2 separate regions of the Homo sapiens genome follow, and region 2 is linked to region 1. The links come from fine-mapping of genetic effects on gene expression. Tissue or cell type: whole blood. Region 1 holds a variant in brackets; the other region holds the start of a gene. All regions are shown on one strand. Distances are between the middles of the regions. Region 1 overlaps LOC107986454 (a long non-coding RNA gene). Region 2 holds the start of PCDH1 (protocadherin 1).

What was found.
Region 2: it holds the start of PCDH1, and the variant in region 1 is fine-mapped to the expression of PCDH1 in whole blood (INTERVAL, PIP above 0.99).

Annotation. Positions count from the first base shown.
Region 1 is chr5:141,818,962-141,827,283 of GRCh38, reverse strand. LOC107986454 (a long non-coding RNA gene) reads left to right here. Exons shown (of 3, transcript XR_001742906.2): 1 at 1-5,795. Among named protein-coding and RNA genes, the nearest start is that of PCDH1, 55 kb to the left of the region's middle. RefSeq lists enhancers at 1,253-1,941, 3,745-4,245. The variant G/C (reference allele first, on the strand shown) is at 4,506.
Region 2 is chr5:141,874,570-141,882,891 of GRCh38, reverse strand. PCDH1 (protocadherin 1) reads left to right here and starts at 4,482. Exons shown (of 5, transcript NM_032420.5): 1 at 4,482-4,669. The coding sequence starts at 4,630. RefSeq lists enhancers at 1-454, 4,484-5,233, 5,500-6,184.

The DNA of each region.
Region 1 (8,322 bases):
TGCTTGCTTTCAGTTCCACCTCCATATATTACATGCTGTGTGGCCTGGGGACAGTAGCTTTCCCTTTCTGACCTCGGTTTCTTCATCAGTAAAATGAAGATGCTAATACCACCTGTCCTGTCTTCCTCAATGTCTCCAACCAGCAGGTGCCTTTAACATGCCACGAGGCAAGAGTGAACTCAGGTGGAGGTACTTTGCTAAAAGCAGCCCAGGTAGGAGGAGATGACTGAGTAGAACTGGCCGTGTTATCCTCAGAATGATTTCTTGCTTCCCCAGGAGACTCCTGTTGCTGTGACGATTTTTCCTGGTTCTCAGTCCCTGGACTCTGGGATAGCTGAGATCTTCTGGCTCTCGCCTCACATAGCATCTCACAGTGATGTCCTGGCTTCCTGCCTAGGCCCCAATCACCAGTTCTGGTGCTGACCCTGCAGGTCCTAGCTCCCTCCCAGCCGGCCTAGAGACAGGGCCCAGGCTCATTGGAAGGAACAACAGGAGACTTGCCTGAAAGCCAAATGTTCTACCCAACAGGACCTGATTATGGTGGCCAAGGGGCTGTACCTGGGCAGTCTCACCCAAGGGACACTTCTCAGGGGTCAGGAGAATTTCAGCTCTGTGTTTACACATGATTCTAGGCTGAGGGAGAGAGAAAAAGCAGGGTAGGGGGTGGCAGATTAGGCGAGGGAATGTGTCCCCTAGATGGTCCCTTAGCTCATAGTGGAAGTGGGCTCTAGAGCGCCTTGCCCATGCCCTCTTCATGCTCTAGAGAGGTGGGCAAAGGACAAAGTATGCGACTACCCAGGAGAACCAGCCTCCAGATTGAGATTGGAGATGAAGGCCACTCAGTCCCCTCCATTGCAAAAAGAATAAAAGAAAGGAGTAGGATTGGCCATTGCTTGCAAATAAACAGGAGGGGGCAGTGTTGGGGTAATGACCTCCATCCGGGGAGGGTCAGGAAGGGAGCTGTCCTTTACTGGGCACCCAGGAGATGCACCTGTACAATTTCATTCATTCTCACGACCACCTCGTTAGGTAGGCACTATCTCTGTGGCTCCATTTGGCCAATGAAAAGGATGAAGATCTGAGAAGTCAAGTTACACTGCTAGGAAGAGGTTGACTTGGAGTGGAAACCCAGGACTGCCTGTCTGACTGCTGAATGGGTGCTTTGCGTTCCTTACCTGCCCTCCCAGGGCTCCAGACCGTCCCTCCTGCACATCTGCCTCTCCCAGGCCGTGCCTGCATGTCCCCAGCCCCCTCCAACAGCTCCATCTCCCGAGAGCTCCTTGAATCTCCTCACTCACTCCTCACTCTTGCTTCCTCTTTGGAATCCAGCCACAGGCTTTTTTCTTCCATCTGAGGGAGAGAAAATGGTCTCGTTCCCCACCCCCAGGTCTTTCCATCCTCTCATCCATCCAAACCTAAGCATCTCTCACTCCTCCCCTCCCCCTCTCTTATTTTTTTTTTCTTTCTGTTTATCCATCACTAGAATCTACCCCCCTTCCCTCTTGCCTGTAGGTTCTGTGGCTATAAACAAATCATAACTTTTATTAAATTTAAGATTACTTTTTAATGGAATCAATTTCTTGTGTGGTGCTTCTCTGCCTGCCCGCGGGCTCTGCCGGCTCTGCGCTCAGCATCCCCACCCGCACAGTTGTCTCTGCCGCTGGCGTTTCTGGCTAAGCTGCCTCTGAAGGAGGGGCAGGTCTGCCATCCCTAAACACACACAGAGAAACACACACACACATGCACACACTCCCACACACACACGAAGATGCACCTTCCTGCAAGGCCCAGACACAGAGCCGCCAAGCCCCAGGTGCCCACACTGAGCGGCAGGGAGTGGGAGAGGGGCAGGGGCAGGAGGAGAGAGCTGCAGAGAGAAAGACTGAGGGTGCAAAACAAATGCGGAGCCGAGCAGACATTTCTCAGCCTGTTAATTTCCTACAGTTCTGTTTTCCAGCCTCAGAAACAAGCTGGTTTCTGCCAGTCCACCCCCTTCCCTCTGACTGCATTGTGCAGCTGCTGAGCAGAGAGAAGTTGCAGGGAGGAGGGGGTTCCAGAGGAGAAGCGAAGAGACTCAGGTTTTCATACGATTTATCAAAGTACAGGCAAGATGCAGAGATGCTTCTGAAGCTGTGACCCCAAAAAGAAGCTCAACTGGGAGATTTGCAGCCTGGACCAGTCTAACCCTACAGGTCTGGGCTTCAGGAAGAAGGGAACCTGGGGGTGCTGCAGGGAATACTTTGGAGGTAGGAGAGAAAAGAAAGAGGGGTTGGAGGGTCACTTTGATGGAGGGAGCAGGGGCTGGGAGAGGTATTGGGGGAGTTCTCAAAACGAGCTCATGGGGGGCCTAGAGATGAGGATTTGCAGACTCAGCAAAGACTTGGCTGCCTCCTTGAGGCATCGGCATGGCTCTGGTCTCTGTTCCAGCTTTTCTGGGAGTATCCCTGGACACTCTTAGGTAGACAGGAGATCATGGGTGGGAAGGTGGATCTGAGGCCTGAGGGTGGCCCCCCTTGGCCCACTACACTGTCCTCAGCACACATTGTTAGTAAACTGAGTGTCAGGCGGGAGACCTCATGTTCATCCAGGTACATGTTGCAAAGCTCAGTGAATAAGAGCACAGCCTTTGGAATCAGAGAGGTCCACAAATCTAGACTCTGAAGCTTTCTAACTGTGTGACCTTGAATAAGTGACCTAACTTCTCTGAGCCTGTTTCTTACTCTGAAATAAGGATTCAGTAAAGTGATGCATGTGGAACATCTAGCGTAAAGCCTGACAGAGTAAGAGTTCAAGTGGATTGCTAATATTTGTATTATATCTTCTAAGCACCAACCAAATGCACACACATAGCCCATGATCCCCCGTGCCTAGGTTGATTGGGACCAGGCAGGCCTCCGCTCTTGGATTAAATTCAGGCTGGGACCAGAGACCATGTGAGTGACAGTTCCCAGGATTGGAATTCAGGACACAGCAGGGCTCTTCTCCCTCCTTCAGGTGGAAGAGTGGCTGAAGGGCTTGTCAGGAGAAGAGGTGAGGGACTGATGAAGCCCCCTGGGTACTGAAGGCCAAACTCCATTCCTTACCCCTGATTTTCAGGGAGCAATGAACCTGAAGCCGGGTTTCTTCTAGGGCAGAATAAAAGGAAAACATCCTGTGGCCAGTTCCTGCCCTGCAGCCTCTGATAGCCTCCTGTTGGCTTGGGGGACTTTAGAGGGCTCTGACATCCTTAGACAAGGCCTAGAGAAGGGGGTCTATAAAGATTTAATTTGGCACAGGGCATGAGTGCCCTTTCTATCCCTCCTGTCCTTTAACCCCAGGGGGTAGGAAAAAACTCAAGAATGCAAACAAGGGGCAGAACTGGAAAAGGCTGGTTCTGGTAGTGAAACCCCTCATGTGCCCAAACTTGGGAGCAGATGCCAACATGGCTGCAGTCACAGTACAACCAGGATCGGCGGCTCAGCCCCATCAGGCTGTACTTTGGAGCCCAGCCGCTTCCTTGGAGAGAGGGACAGCTGGAGCCTCCTCTCCCAGGCAAGAACTCACCTCTCATCTTTCTATTACCCCTAAAAGGAGGCTGTTTCAACGGGCTCAGCAACTCCCTCGGTTTGACCCCTGACACAAGCATGCCTGCTGAATCTACACCTGGACCTAAAGACTTGTAGAGTCCTTTCTGGGGCTGGATGTTCCCACAGGACAATTACCAGTCATGCATACAGAGCTTTGCTGCCCAAGGGGACTTTCTGAGGGCTGAATATTATTTACTTCAACTCTCCTTTGACAAGGCACCTGAGGCCCAGATGGGGAAAGTCACACAGGACTGTGATGGGGCCTGATCGAGATCTCCTGAATCTTCCCAGTGCTGCTTGCTGTGCTTTGTGGCCCTTCCTCTGGCTGTAACTGTAATCCCACCTATACCTTAGGTTGCACATGCTCATACAGCGCTTACCATGAGCCACCCTCTGAGGCAGGTACTGTTATGATTCCCATTTTACAGCTGGGGAGGCTGAGGCTCAGAGAGGTTAAATACTTCCCTAAGCTAGTATGTGGTCGAGCTAGAATTTGAAACCAGAATGTCCTGCCCCAGAATCTAGACTCCTAACCACTGGGCTGTGCTACCTCTCTTCTCTGGAAGCTTCACCTGTACCTGGACACATTTACCTTCACTTTCCTCTTCTCCTGTCCTTAGCTTTCACCACCACCTTCACAATTTCTCATTTCAGGCTAAGCCAGATAATCACCCCAGACACAAGGGCAGGCTCAGCACTGCTATCAAAATCCCTTTTCCTTTTATCTTCTCCATCACCATCTTAGCCTTATCGCGTTCACTATCATGATCAACTTCACCATTTATAAAGTCTCTAATTGCAAATGACTGTGTACCTATAGACCAATGCAGATCTAACCCCTGCCTTGGGATGGGAGGATGGGGCTTACAGTCAAACCAAACAGCAGTTTAAGCCACATATACTCCTCCCTTTGTAAGTAAAGGTACGAAACCAGAATGT[G/C]GAAGGCAGTCTTCTTCTTAAGAGATTTTTCTGCAATAAGATGGAGGTGGTGAAGGAGAAGTTTCGAACAGCCAAAGAGTGCCTGCTGAGGGAAATTAATCAATGGCCAAGAAGATTGCTTGTCATCTTTCAATATCTATAAGAAATAACGAGCCTCCAGAGAGGGAGCTAGAGCTCCAAGGGAAAAGAAGACCAGTGGGTACTCTGTCCAACTCATGCCTCTAAGGAGCTACAGGAGAAAGATGGAGCCATAGGCAGCTTCCACCCCTTTGGATGGTGGCCAACACCCATCTCCCCAGCCACAGTATCTCTCACAGCCCCTGGGGAAGCCAGAAGCAAGCAACACTGCCCAGGAGTTTTAAAACTGATTCTTCCCTTAAGCTCAAGTCCCACCCACCTCCCAACCCAGTGAGCTTGCTGGTTGGCTGTCCATGAGTGTTGGCTGCCAGATGTGCCATCATCCGGCACAGGATGTACAGGAAAGAGGGCAATGGCTTCCCGGACCAGAGTCTCCACCCAGAATTCCAGCCAAGGCCCCAGAGCTCCCAGGACCTGGAGAATTTGTTCCCCCTGGTTGTGTTTGGAATTGGCTGGTTTTCTGGGCACCAGGCCCAGCTCAGTTTAATTTTTGTTTATTTTTATGTACAGATTCTCTTCTGTTTGGGGATGAGCTTTGTGTAAATTATTATTATTTATATGATAAAGAATAAATCACACCAAATAAAAAAACCCACAATCTCTTTTTCTCAATAGAATTACTAAATTAGGGGCTGAAAGGAACAGCCGATATGCTGGGGTTTGGTTTCAGGAAGGCTTTGGACATGGATTCTCGCAAAACGTCTTAGTAAATGGGCTCTGTTATCCTGGATTTGATGCTACCCACAGTCCGCAGAGGCATAAGGGGCCTCCCAGAAAGATGGCAGTGGTTCAGGCCTAAGGGTGGCTTCCTGGCCCTCCAGACATCCCACCCCTGGAGAGATGAGTCGGGCATTTTGAAGTGATTCGCTAACTCAGAATGGGGAAAAAAAGGGAAAACAGGAGTTGGGGATTCTTGCCAGAACATGATCAAATGCCCTGAACTGGGGTGGGGGTAGGGTTCATAGGAGTTACTTGAATAGTGGCATTATTACATCAGGGAAAATGAGCCAATCATTTCTTTGCCTATTCATTAAATTTGCATGCTAAGACTCTATTGGTTGGAATGAAATGAGTCAGGAGGCAGGGATGCAGATGGGCAGAGGACCAGCTGGGCCTGGAAAGTGTCCCCAAGTGGCCCCCATCCCAGCCAGGGTAGGGAGAAGACCAATTCACCAAAAATACTGCACCCTCACCCCCTATCATCCACCTTTGGATAAAATTCTGTTTGGGAACTAGAGAAAGACACACCCAGGGCAAGAATCCATCCTGGGGCTAATATCCTAAAGACCAGATAGAGAAAAAAGTCAGCAATAGTTGTTTTTTGTTTGTTTTTGTTATTTTTGTTGTTGTTGTTTTAAATCTCCTAGGACCTCAGGCTACCAGAGATTTTTCTTTTTTTTTTTTTTTTGACGAAGTTTCGCTCTTGTTGCCCAGGCTGGAGTTCAATGGCGCAATCTCTGCTCACCGCAACCTCCGCCTCCCGGGTTCAAACGATTCTCCTGCCTCAGCCTCACGAGTAGCTGGGATTACAGGCATGCGCCACCACGCCTGGCTAATTTTGTATTTTTAGTAGAGACGGGGTTTCTCCATGTTGGCCAGGCTGGTCTCAAACTCCCGACCTCAGGTGATTCGCCTGCCTCAGCCTGCCAAAGTGCTGGGATTACAGGTGTGAGTCACCACACCTGACCAGCTACCAGAAAGTTTTAAAAAACATCTAGGCTGGGCGCGGTGGCTCATGCCTGTAATCCCAGCACGTTGGGAGGCCGAGGCGGACGGATCACTTGAGGTCAAGAGTTGGAGACCAGTCTGGCCAACATGGTGAAACCCTGACTCTATTAAACATACAAAAAATTAGCCGGGCATGGTGGCGCATGCCTGTAATCCCAGCTACGCAGGAGGCTGAGGCAGGAGAATCGTTTTAACCTGGGAGGCGGAGGTTACAGCGAGCTGAGATCGCACCACTGCACTCTAGCCTGGGCCACAGAGCGAAACTCAGTCTCAAACAAACAAACAAACAAAATCCATACACACACAGAAAAACTTCTGGCACCGTTGCCTATCAGCTTTTTCTCAAACTGTGTCCTCTTCCTAGAATGGACTTCTCCTATCTTCCCACCTAAGTAAGTCCTACCTTTGCGTCAAGGCACAGCTATAGCCATTGTCATGGTGGGGTCCCAGAGCAGGGACTCTGGCGTCTCCTCTTGAGCTTGAAAATCTACTCTGCCGCTTAATAGCTGTGGAAAATTTGGGCAACTCGCTTAATCCTCCCTGAGCCTTAGTCTCCCCATCTGTAAATGGGATAATAATAGCAATCACACATACCCAGAGGCTTAAGAGTGAGGATTAAATCAGAAAGGTCACATGTAAAATGTGCTTACACAGTAAGTGCTCTATTAAAGTGGTAGTTATTTAGAATGATACTCTAGTAAGCTATCCCAGAGCTCCCCAACTGGGAATTAACTGTGTCCCACTCTGACATGTACCTTGGGAACACAGGGATTCCACCTTTAGGGTTTCTGACTAAATCATTTTTCACAGTCTGCCCTGAATCAGCTATTATGTAATGAATCTGGCAGTCCCTAGCCAAGCTTTGCACTTAGTAGGTACTTGCTAAGACAATAAATGCTTGTTTAAAATATTGCCCACCTAGTCAAATTCCCAAACCCTGTAAAACCCCACTAAATTCTAATCTATTTGTCCTGAGTCCCACACAATGCCTGGTTCAGCCACTTCCAGTAGAGTGGGAAATGGGGAGCAGTGGAAGATGGGCTGGGGCCCCAGGAGGAGAGGGGAGATGAGAGGTGGGAAATAAATGGAGCCTGTAAGGGGTTTTACTGTGTCCAGGCCACATGGATCAATCTGTTTTCACTGCCCCTCCATAGGGCACTTTAAATTCCACCCTCGTCTTTGATTAACCAATGGCTGACCTGAGACAGGTCTGCTTGTGCAGGTCCTCATCCAGCCAGAGGAGGTGTATATTGATTAGCTAGACTAGGGCAATGAACTGTACAGGCTCTGGATTGCCTAAAAGGCCCCTTGAGAGGTGGTCCTTGTGGGCGAGGGAAATCTCTGAGTCACCGTGGGTACTCATGCACTTGCCCATGAATAACCATACATTTATATGTGTATGTTTGTGGGTAAATACTGGCCCTTTTATCTTGGTGTGTATTCAGTAATTCATTCATTTGTTCATTTATTATTTATTGAGGCCCTACTGTGGGCTAGCACAATGCCGACGCTAGAATGTGGTAGTCGCTAAGGCAAAATTCCTGCCCATACTGAGCTTTTTTTCTAGCGAGTGGAAAGAGTAACAGTAAAGCAAAGAAATTAACAATTTAGTTTTAGATCGTGAAAGTGCTGTAAAAATAATAAAACAAGATAAAGGGATAGAGAGCAACAGTGCATGTAGAGGGAGCTCCTTTAGGACGAGTGGTTTGGGTCAAGACCTAAATGATGAGAACAAATCAGCCTCAGAAAAAATCTGGAAACAGAGCATTCCAGGCAGAGGGCACAGCAAGTGCAAAAGCTCGGAAGAATTGCTTTGGGCCAGTGACTCTAGGAATCTGTGTCATTCTGAGGCAAATGTCAATCAGCTTTTATTGCACGTACACATTTGTATCTTTCCATTGCTGTTAGAATCATGCCAACCTCCTCACTGAGACCTACAGTCTTACAACCC
Region 2 (8,322 bases), 56 kb before region 1:
TCCCCGTTTCTCTCGGTCCTTTCATCGGGGGCTGTCCCTAAGGCTTGGTCCCTCCTTCCTGCTCCTGTCTCCCCTCCGATTCTTGCACTGCACAGCCTACCCAGTTTCTATGGAAACAGGCTGGGAAGGCACTGCCAGGAGGCCAAGGCCACTACAGCTCTTGGGGGGAGGGGAAGATAGAAATGGAAAGAGAGACGCAGGAGGCGAGTTCTGGCCATTCCCGGAAGCGGGTGGAGATCTGTTGGGAGTGAGCCTTCACTGCCAGAGGGGTGGGGCAGAAGGAGAGGTGTGATTAAGTGATGTGACTGAGACAGAGTTGAGGGGCTCCTCCTCATTCCCCCAATTCCCAGTGCTCCAGACATCTAGACAAGCCTCCTCAGAGGGGAAAGTGGTGGATGAAGAAGGAAAAGAGACAGGTAGTACCAAGAGCTCTGCCCATTTCTAACTTATGTGAGGCTCTATCCTTTTACCCCTCCTGGGGACATGCCCACTTGAGAGGAGGTCTCCAGGGAACTAGAAGGCTCCCAAGAAGTGGGAGGGAAAATTGGAGTGCGGTGTGAGTGGTCAGGGATGTTCAGGAATCTCCCCTAGGAAGGTGAGCTAGAGGTGGGCAGAGGCCTCGGAATGTCAGCTACTTTTATGGTACCCCTCTCTGGCACCTCCACTGAGGAGTTGGTAGGGGGCTGGAGACTGTCAGCTTCCTCCCCTCTGTTCATCCCATCAGAACGTTGGGCTATGAGAAAACAAAAGTGGCCTAGTGGGGGTTGGGTGCACAGAAAGGGAGATAAGCCTAAGGCAAGAAGGGCCAGAAGAGGGGTGGGTGAATGAGTGAGTGCGGATGCTTGTGGCTAGGGCAGGGAGGGAGCTTCTTAGAAGCTTCATCTGCCAGCTCCTGGGAAGTGATCCCCAGCCCTCACCCTCTCCCGATGCTCCCACCTCAGGCAAAGCTGCCCCTTGGACAGGAACTATTGGAAATCTCAGAGTCCTGGGAGATTGTGCTGTGGGGGATTCCTTGGAAAGGGGCCTTCTAGGTTATCAGAACGTTCAGCAAAGCTTCCCTGGGGGAGAGGGGTAGTGAAACAGGTACCCTGGAGCCTAGGGTTTCCTGGATCTGAGCCATCGGCTCTCCCTGACCATAGTCCCCAGAACAGTCGTCTTGGTGTTTGCTTATTTTGGTTATTTTTTGATCAGATATTTTGGCACTGAGCACACTGCCTCCTGTTGCCATGGCAGCCGTGACAGGGGCTGAGGCACCGTGAGAAAAATACCAAAATTAATGAGTGAGCGAAAGTGCAGCCGAGAGAAAAACAAGGTTAAAAAAAGAGTTAAAACAGTAATGAAAACAGGCTTTCCAGCTCCACAGCAGAGCAGCTGCTGAGGCCTCCCCAGAGCAGCAGCCCCCACCCAGCCTAGAGCTCCTGGCATCTCCCAGACCTCAAGGCAGGACTCACTTGGCTTCCCCCACCCAGCTCGTCACTGACCCAGCAACAGCCACTTGGGGACCACCCTATGCACAACAGTAGATCAGCTCCAACAGTACATCAGCTTCCATCTCAGGTAGTATCCTGCCTCCCAGAACAGCTTGTCATCTCCTAAACAATAGAGTCTCAGCCACAGCCCCCACACAACAATGGTCCAGCAAAATTACCAGGAAATGGCCTCCTAGCTACACCCAAGCTTTAAAGTTATAGCTGCAGGCATCCCAGCTAGAGTCCAGCACACAGTAACAGCCCAACCACAATTCTGAGCAACAGCATCTTAGCTATAGCCAATCCCCAGTATGCTGTCATCACAGCTACAGCTCCAGGACCAATAGCAGCTCAGCTACAGTCCTATACACAACAGTAGCTCTGCTCCTATCCCAGGTAACAGCCTGTCTCCCAGGTACAGGCTCCTCGCAACAGCCTCTCATCTCCTAGGACCTAGGCAATGGATCCAGTTACAGTCCCATCTACATCATATTAACAGGGAACAGCTTCTCAGCTACAGCCAGTCTCAGGTGTGCCAGCCTCATATCTATAGCTTCAGGCCCAACAGCTTATCAGTTACAGTTCTCCCTCAACATGCACACACACACCCATATACACACAGCTTGGCGATAGTTTCTCAGGTAATCTTATTGGCTATAGCCTAGGCACACCAGCATCAGAGCACTGCAACAGTGTCCTAAGTACAATCAGAGGCAGCAGCCTTGGTGTTACAGTTCCAGGCCCTACAGCATCCTAGTTCACTTAGCCACAGCCCATCCCAGGTACACGGATATCACAGCAAGCACCCCAACCATTCCCATACCCAGCATCACCCTGGTTCCAATCCCTGGCCACAGTCTCAGCTGGAACTCAGGCACCATCAGTTTCAGGAGCCTCCCCCAGTGCTTCACTTGCCAAGCAGGTCCTCCTCCCACTTTGGTACAGGGCCAGAAGTCTGACTTCTCTCCTCTTCAAATGCCACCTCCCTTGCTCCCCAACCATCCTCCCAGTCCCTGCTTGCTCACCTGCCCTCTTTCCTGGGGAAAAAAGGCCCCAATTCTCATATCTACATTGTCCCTGACTCAGGGGCACAGAGCCCAGCCTGGCAGCTGGGGTAGGAGGGGCTGGGGAGCAGGGAGAAGAGTAGGCACACCCTGGTGCTGCTGCTGTGGCCCAGTTCTGCTCCTACCACTTGGTGCAGAATTTGAGTTTGATGGTGGTGGAGCAGGGAGGATGGAGGCGAACATCTGGGAGATTAGCATTTCCTGCCCAGCTCTGCGGCTGCTGATCCTGCTCAGCCCTGAGCAAGGGAGGAGAACAGAGGAGCCTTTGAATGGCTCCCAGCAAGCAGACTGGGGAGGGTTTGCTGCATTGGGCAGCGGGCACACGCTGGGGGCAGGGAGACCGGGGCAGCTCTTCTGTGGAAGATTTCTTCTCTCTGGGCCACTGATTCCCTCCTCGGAGCTGTGCTCAATGATGTGGAGAGTATGAGCTTTCTAGAGACAGAAAGAAGCTACTTACAGAACAGACCCACCCCCCTCTTTCACCAGATTACCCCATCTCCCATCTAGAGCCCTGCCCCTGGGCTCCTGGGGCTGAGGGATAGAGCAGAGCCCAGGTCAGAAAAGGAGTCCAGTTAAGCAGGGCTGCTCTGGGAGAGATCTTGGACAGACTTTGCTTGCCCTCTTAGCTAACCAGAGATTCCACTTTTACCCTGAAGAGCATCCCACCGAGAGAGGCCAGAGCTGAGAAGAGAAGGAAGTAGAAGAAAGAGGAAAGGCACAGAAGAGTGGTAGGAACAGGAAAATGGGGAAGGACAGAGATGGGGAGTCAGAGGCTATGGCAAAAAGAGGCCCAACAACTGGTCATCCCATAACAAGAGCCTTTCCTCACCCAGCACTAGGCCTGGCTAGGGATAACCTTCCTCATTCTTTTGACCTAGAACACTCTGCCTGGGCCTGCAGGCGAAGAAGGCAGGAGGTCCTGTTGAACTGGGACACTTGGTAGCCTGGGTTACCAAACCGCAAGCGCAGGAGAGGGAGTTCCCAAGCTACTCAGAGACCTCTAGATGGCGCCAGAGAGCCAGAGCTGAATGGGAGAAACCGAGTATTGGAGTGTGTGAGACACTGCGTGTGACACCGTGTGTGATTTGGTGTGAGTGTGATAGGGAGCGTGTGGCACTGCGAGGGCGTGTGACACAGGCCGTGACACTGCGCGGCCTCGCGGGGCAGGGACCCGGTGACTGTATAATGTAAGTCACTGGCAAATACGTGTGGCCGCAGCACTACGCCGTGCAGAGGGCAGGTGATCAGGGGACCCTCGAATAGCCTAAGCTCAGGAGCAGCACTTCGTCTTCACGCTTGTGTATCTTCCCCATCCTCACTCTAGAGCCCCCGGGTCCCATTAGCCTCCTCCTCCCACGGTCCCCTCCATAGCCCCACCCCCACGGCTTGCTGCGGCCACCGAGGCTGACCGCTCTGCGGCTTCGGCCGGAGGGGGAGGGGTGGACTTTCCCCGAGCGCAGCGGGAAGGGAGGGCCACACAGGGCGATCGGGGATCTGGGCGGGAAGAGGGTGGATATGGAGGAGCAGGTGCCCAGGGAAGAAGGCGCTGTGGGAGACACTTCCCTTGCCTCGACTTCCCAGGGGGCAGACAGAGCTGGGGACAGGTGTTTGAGTAGGGTAAGGAGGGGAATCCAGGAGCGGTCCTAGATGGAGGCTTGGGTGGGATAAGTGTAAGGTGAAGCTCAGAGGAGGGCACGGCCTGTGTACTGGGCCTCGGGCAGTGAAGAGATGGCAGAGGGAGGGGTCCAGGCTTTGGGGAGCGGTGCTCGGGGTCCCCTCCCAGCCGGACCGGAGCGGTCCCGAGCTCCACCTCCCGGCCGGAGGGGGGGCGGGGAGGCGGGCGGGCCGGGAGGGAGGGGGGAGGGAGGGGGCGGGCCGGGCTGTGCGCTCCGCTCTCTGCTGGCTCCGCCGCCGCCGCCGCCGCCGCCGCCGCCGCCGCCGCCGCCTCACACACTCGGGGAGCGGGAGCGCGGCGCGGACGCAAAGCCGCCGGGCTGCTGCGCCCAGAGCCAGCCGGAGCCGGAGCCGGAGCCCGAACTGCAGCTCCAGCCCCAGCCGTGCGGAGCCGCAGCCCAGGCCGGGGCCGGCGGCGGCTCATGGACAGCGGGGCGGGCGGCCGGCGCTGCCCGGAGGCGGGTAAGGATCCGGCGGCGGTGGAGGCAGCAGCGGCTTGGGGCCCGAAGCGGTCATGGCCGGCGGGAGCTGAGGGAGGGGCGCTCGGCGGAGCGAGGCCGCGGGGGCCCAACACGAGCTCGGCGCGAGGGGGCTGAGGTGGGGGCTGCTGGGAGCCCATAGCAGGGGATGCGGCTGAGGGATTCCGTCCTCCCAGGTCCGCGGCGAGAAGCCGAGGGAGGGGAGGGGGTGCTGAGCAGAACCCTAGTCCCCGCGTCCCAAACCTGGGCGCGCTCGGAGAGACGGGGATAAGGAGACTCCAGGAGCGCGCGGCGTGGAGGATGGGTTTGGGGAAGCGCGCGGCCCCCAGTTTGGTGGGGGTCTCCCGGAGGACGGAGCAAGCAAGGACCGTTGTCCACAACACATACATACACACTTGTTGGGCAACTACCTCGGCTCACTCAGCCGCTTCCAGCTTCTCGCGGGCACCCAGAGGGCCAGACCGTGGACATATATACACACATACATACATCCCTGCATATGTGCACACAGACATACCTCCCGCACACCAGCGCCCACTGGGGCACCGTCGCCAGCTCAGAATCCGCTTCAGTGTCTGCACGATCAGCAGCACCGACACACAACCCGTGGCTTTACAGAGCAATAACACAACCGGGTGTGACACCCCGCGACGTGGACACACAAACACAATCTCGTGCCCTCATGTACGAGTGTCACAGCCACAGTTCACTAGATGAACCCTCAAAACCTAGCCACCCCCCACATTCCTTTAAGGAACACACCCTAGCATATATCATCTTACCCACTTCTTGGCCAGAACATAGGTACACAGCACAGGTCTCCTTGCACCCCTCTACTGCACCCACACAAACACACAACCCAGTATCTCAGCACACGCTTGATGGCACACACTCTAACACAGGAATTGGCACCTACAGCAGCGCCTCACGGTCACAAACACAGAATCCACTGCTTCACCCATCTTAACACTGGGTGTCACACACACCTTAAACCAACAGTGTCACATTACATTACACCCTGCAGCGCATACACACAAACACACACACTCCGTTCCTCTCTCTCGGAGTCCAGATTCAGGCAGGAGAAGCCGCCGGGGTCGTTCGGCGAGCCCCAAGCGCCCCGCCACGTTAATCGCGACATTATTATTGTAAATATCGGCACAGCGGGAAGGCTGGGCCGGCCTGCCGGCTTCCCAGTCGGCGCCTCCCCAACCCCCACTCCCGGGCCGAACCGGCTGGTGTTCCGGGAACAAGCTGGACCTGGCTGGCCAAGCCATCCCGCCTCCCCGGAGCTCTGGGGCCCCAGGTTCCTTTGTAGAGGGTGCTAGCCTGGGACGGTGATTGCGACCCTCTTCCAGCCATTTAGCTGAGTTTTCTGAGCCACCTGGGTCTCCAGCACACCTGGGTCCCACACACCTTGGTGGGTCCCGCACACCTGGGTTCGTCTCACACCTGAGCGCCCCCTCCGCCTGGTCCCCGCTGTAGGCCAGTGTGTGCGCGGGCAGGCCCTGGAGCCAGAACGGAGATCGCGGCAGGCATAGGAGCAGAATTTGTAGGCGAGGTGGTCTCGCACCCCTTCCCCCCAGCTACCCTCTGTAAGTCAGAATTCTGGCCTCAGTTTCCCCAACAGTGGTCGGCTACTATTTCTTCTGCCAGGAAAGACTGGGGGCGGCACTGAGGCCTTGGAGGATTGAGCGTAGGGCAAAAAACCCCCTCTGCTCGCCACGAGAGGGTCGGTTTTATGAGAATGTCCCCGCCTAGCCGGGTTCGCGGCTTTGTGATTCCGGCGCCGGCTCCCTCCCCGCCCCCTCCTGGCGCCCGCTGCGCCGCTCGCGCCGGCTCCGGCTTGCGGGGGACCCTAGGCCGAGGCCGGAGATGCCGGGGAGGAGGGATTCCCCGCGGTGGCCTGGGTGCGGGGGGCGCAAGGGCTCCCCCCACTAGCCGAAGCGCGTTCTCACCACGCCGCGCCCTAGCCTTGCCTTGGGTTCCTGGAGGCTGGGCGCTGCCGGGGTGGGGGTGGGGCCGCCAGAGCCCAAGAAACTGCCGCCGTCCCCCCCGCCACCCCCTAATCTCCGCAACACACACACACACTCGGCGTCCTCTGGGAGGAGTCGCTCCGCGCGCTGGGTGTGTGCTGGGAGCGCCCGCTGACCAAGGCGGTGCGGACTGGGGCTGCTTGGGTCGCTTCGTGCAGGAAGACGCCGCGAGGCTTCTAGCACCTGCTCTGGGTCAACCCTCGGGAGCTGCCAGGGAAGGGGCCGCCCAGAAAGTTTTTATGACAAGCCGGAGGTCTAGCTGTGTTTGTAGGGGGTGGGGGGCGCGGGAGTAGGTGGGTGTTACTTTATTGACGTTAAGGTCTGGGGGAATTGGAACCTGTAATTACAACTAGACTAGGGCATGGGGTGGAATCGAGGGGAGAGGCAGACTGGCCCCCAGAGGTAGCCAGAGGCAGTGTGATAGGGAGGCAAGTCTGGATTCAGTTCTGGCCGCATTTAGTTTTTACCCCTTCTCCTACCCACCTCCAATTCCCAATTCCAAAAGGGACTTCAGCTGGAAGTGGGTGTCTTGCTGGTCTGCCATCTTCTTAGCAGAGGGGCTGCTGCTGTGGCTACTTCTGCAGGGGAGCTGGGCAAGCGATAGTAAGCTAATTGCTGAGAAGGGGGTTGAAGGGCCAGGAGGGGGCCGCGAGGGTGGGGGAGGAGCTAAGTGGGAATCAGGGTTCGGGGAGGGGTGTAGGGAAAGAAGAAGGTGAGGGCTGCCCCTGCCGTGAGCAAGGATAGTTGGTGCAGAGATTCTGTTCAACAATGTATTGAGCACCTTTTATCTGCCAGGGTCCATGGTGGGTGGTGAGGATGCAGTAGTAAGAGACATACCATCATTGCCTTCATAGGACTTACCAACCAGCGAGGGGATTGGCTTGTTTATTCATCGAACCAAGGAGCACCCACTGTGTGCCCGATGCTGGAAATAAAATGGTCTATTCAGCAATTAGAAGACTTAGAAAAAAAAATGATTTGTCCTTTACATGTAATGTAAATAGACCTTAATGTAATAGACCTTATAGGCATGAGATCTCATTTAATTCTCCCAAATAATTTCAAGAGGCAGGTTTCATTATTTCCATTTCACAGTATGGAAACAGGTTCAGAAAAGTAAATTCACTTGGTTAATGTCACACAGCTAGGAAGTGGTGGAGCGAGGGTTCTAACCCCAACGATCTGACATGCAGGTGCCCAGAAGCCCTGCAGAGGCTAATAGAGGGTTGTGGGAGAGAGGGGAGAGGAGCTGAGGTCTGCACACTTGCTCTCTGTGGGAGGCTTCTGTTCAGCTCCACCCCACGCAACCCCATTTTCTTCCCCTCTCCCCGCGACAGTCCGTTTGTCCCTTGGTGTTTTGTGCCCGCGGCAGTGACCGTTGTGTAACAGTGCTGGGGTGAGGGTGGGGAGTCAGAGCTGACCTGGCTACTGGGACAGTGGTGGCTGCCTCTGTGTGTTTTTTCTCTGGCCACAGCACTCAGCAAAATGGACCTTGGTCCCCGGGGTGGGCTGGAAGTGAAGTTTCCGGGTGAACTCTCACCTCTGTTCTCATCCCTTCCCAGATGTTGACACAGACAGTATTTCCTTCAGCTTTTCTGGG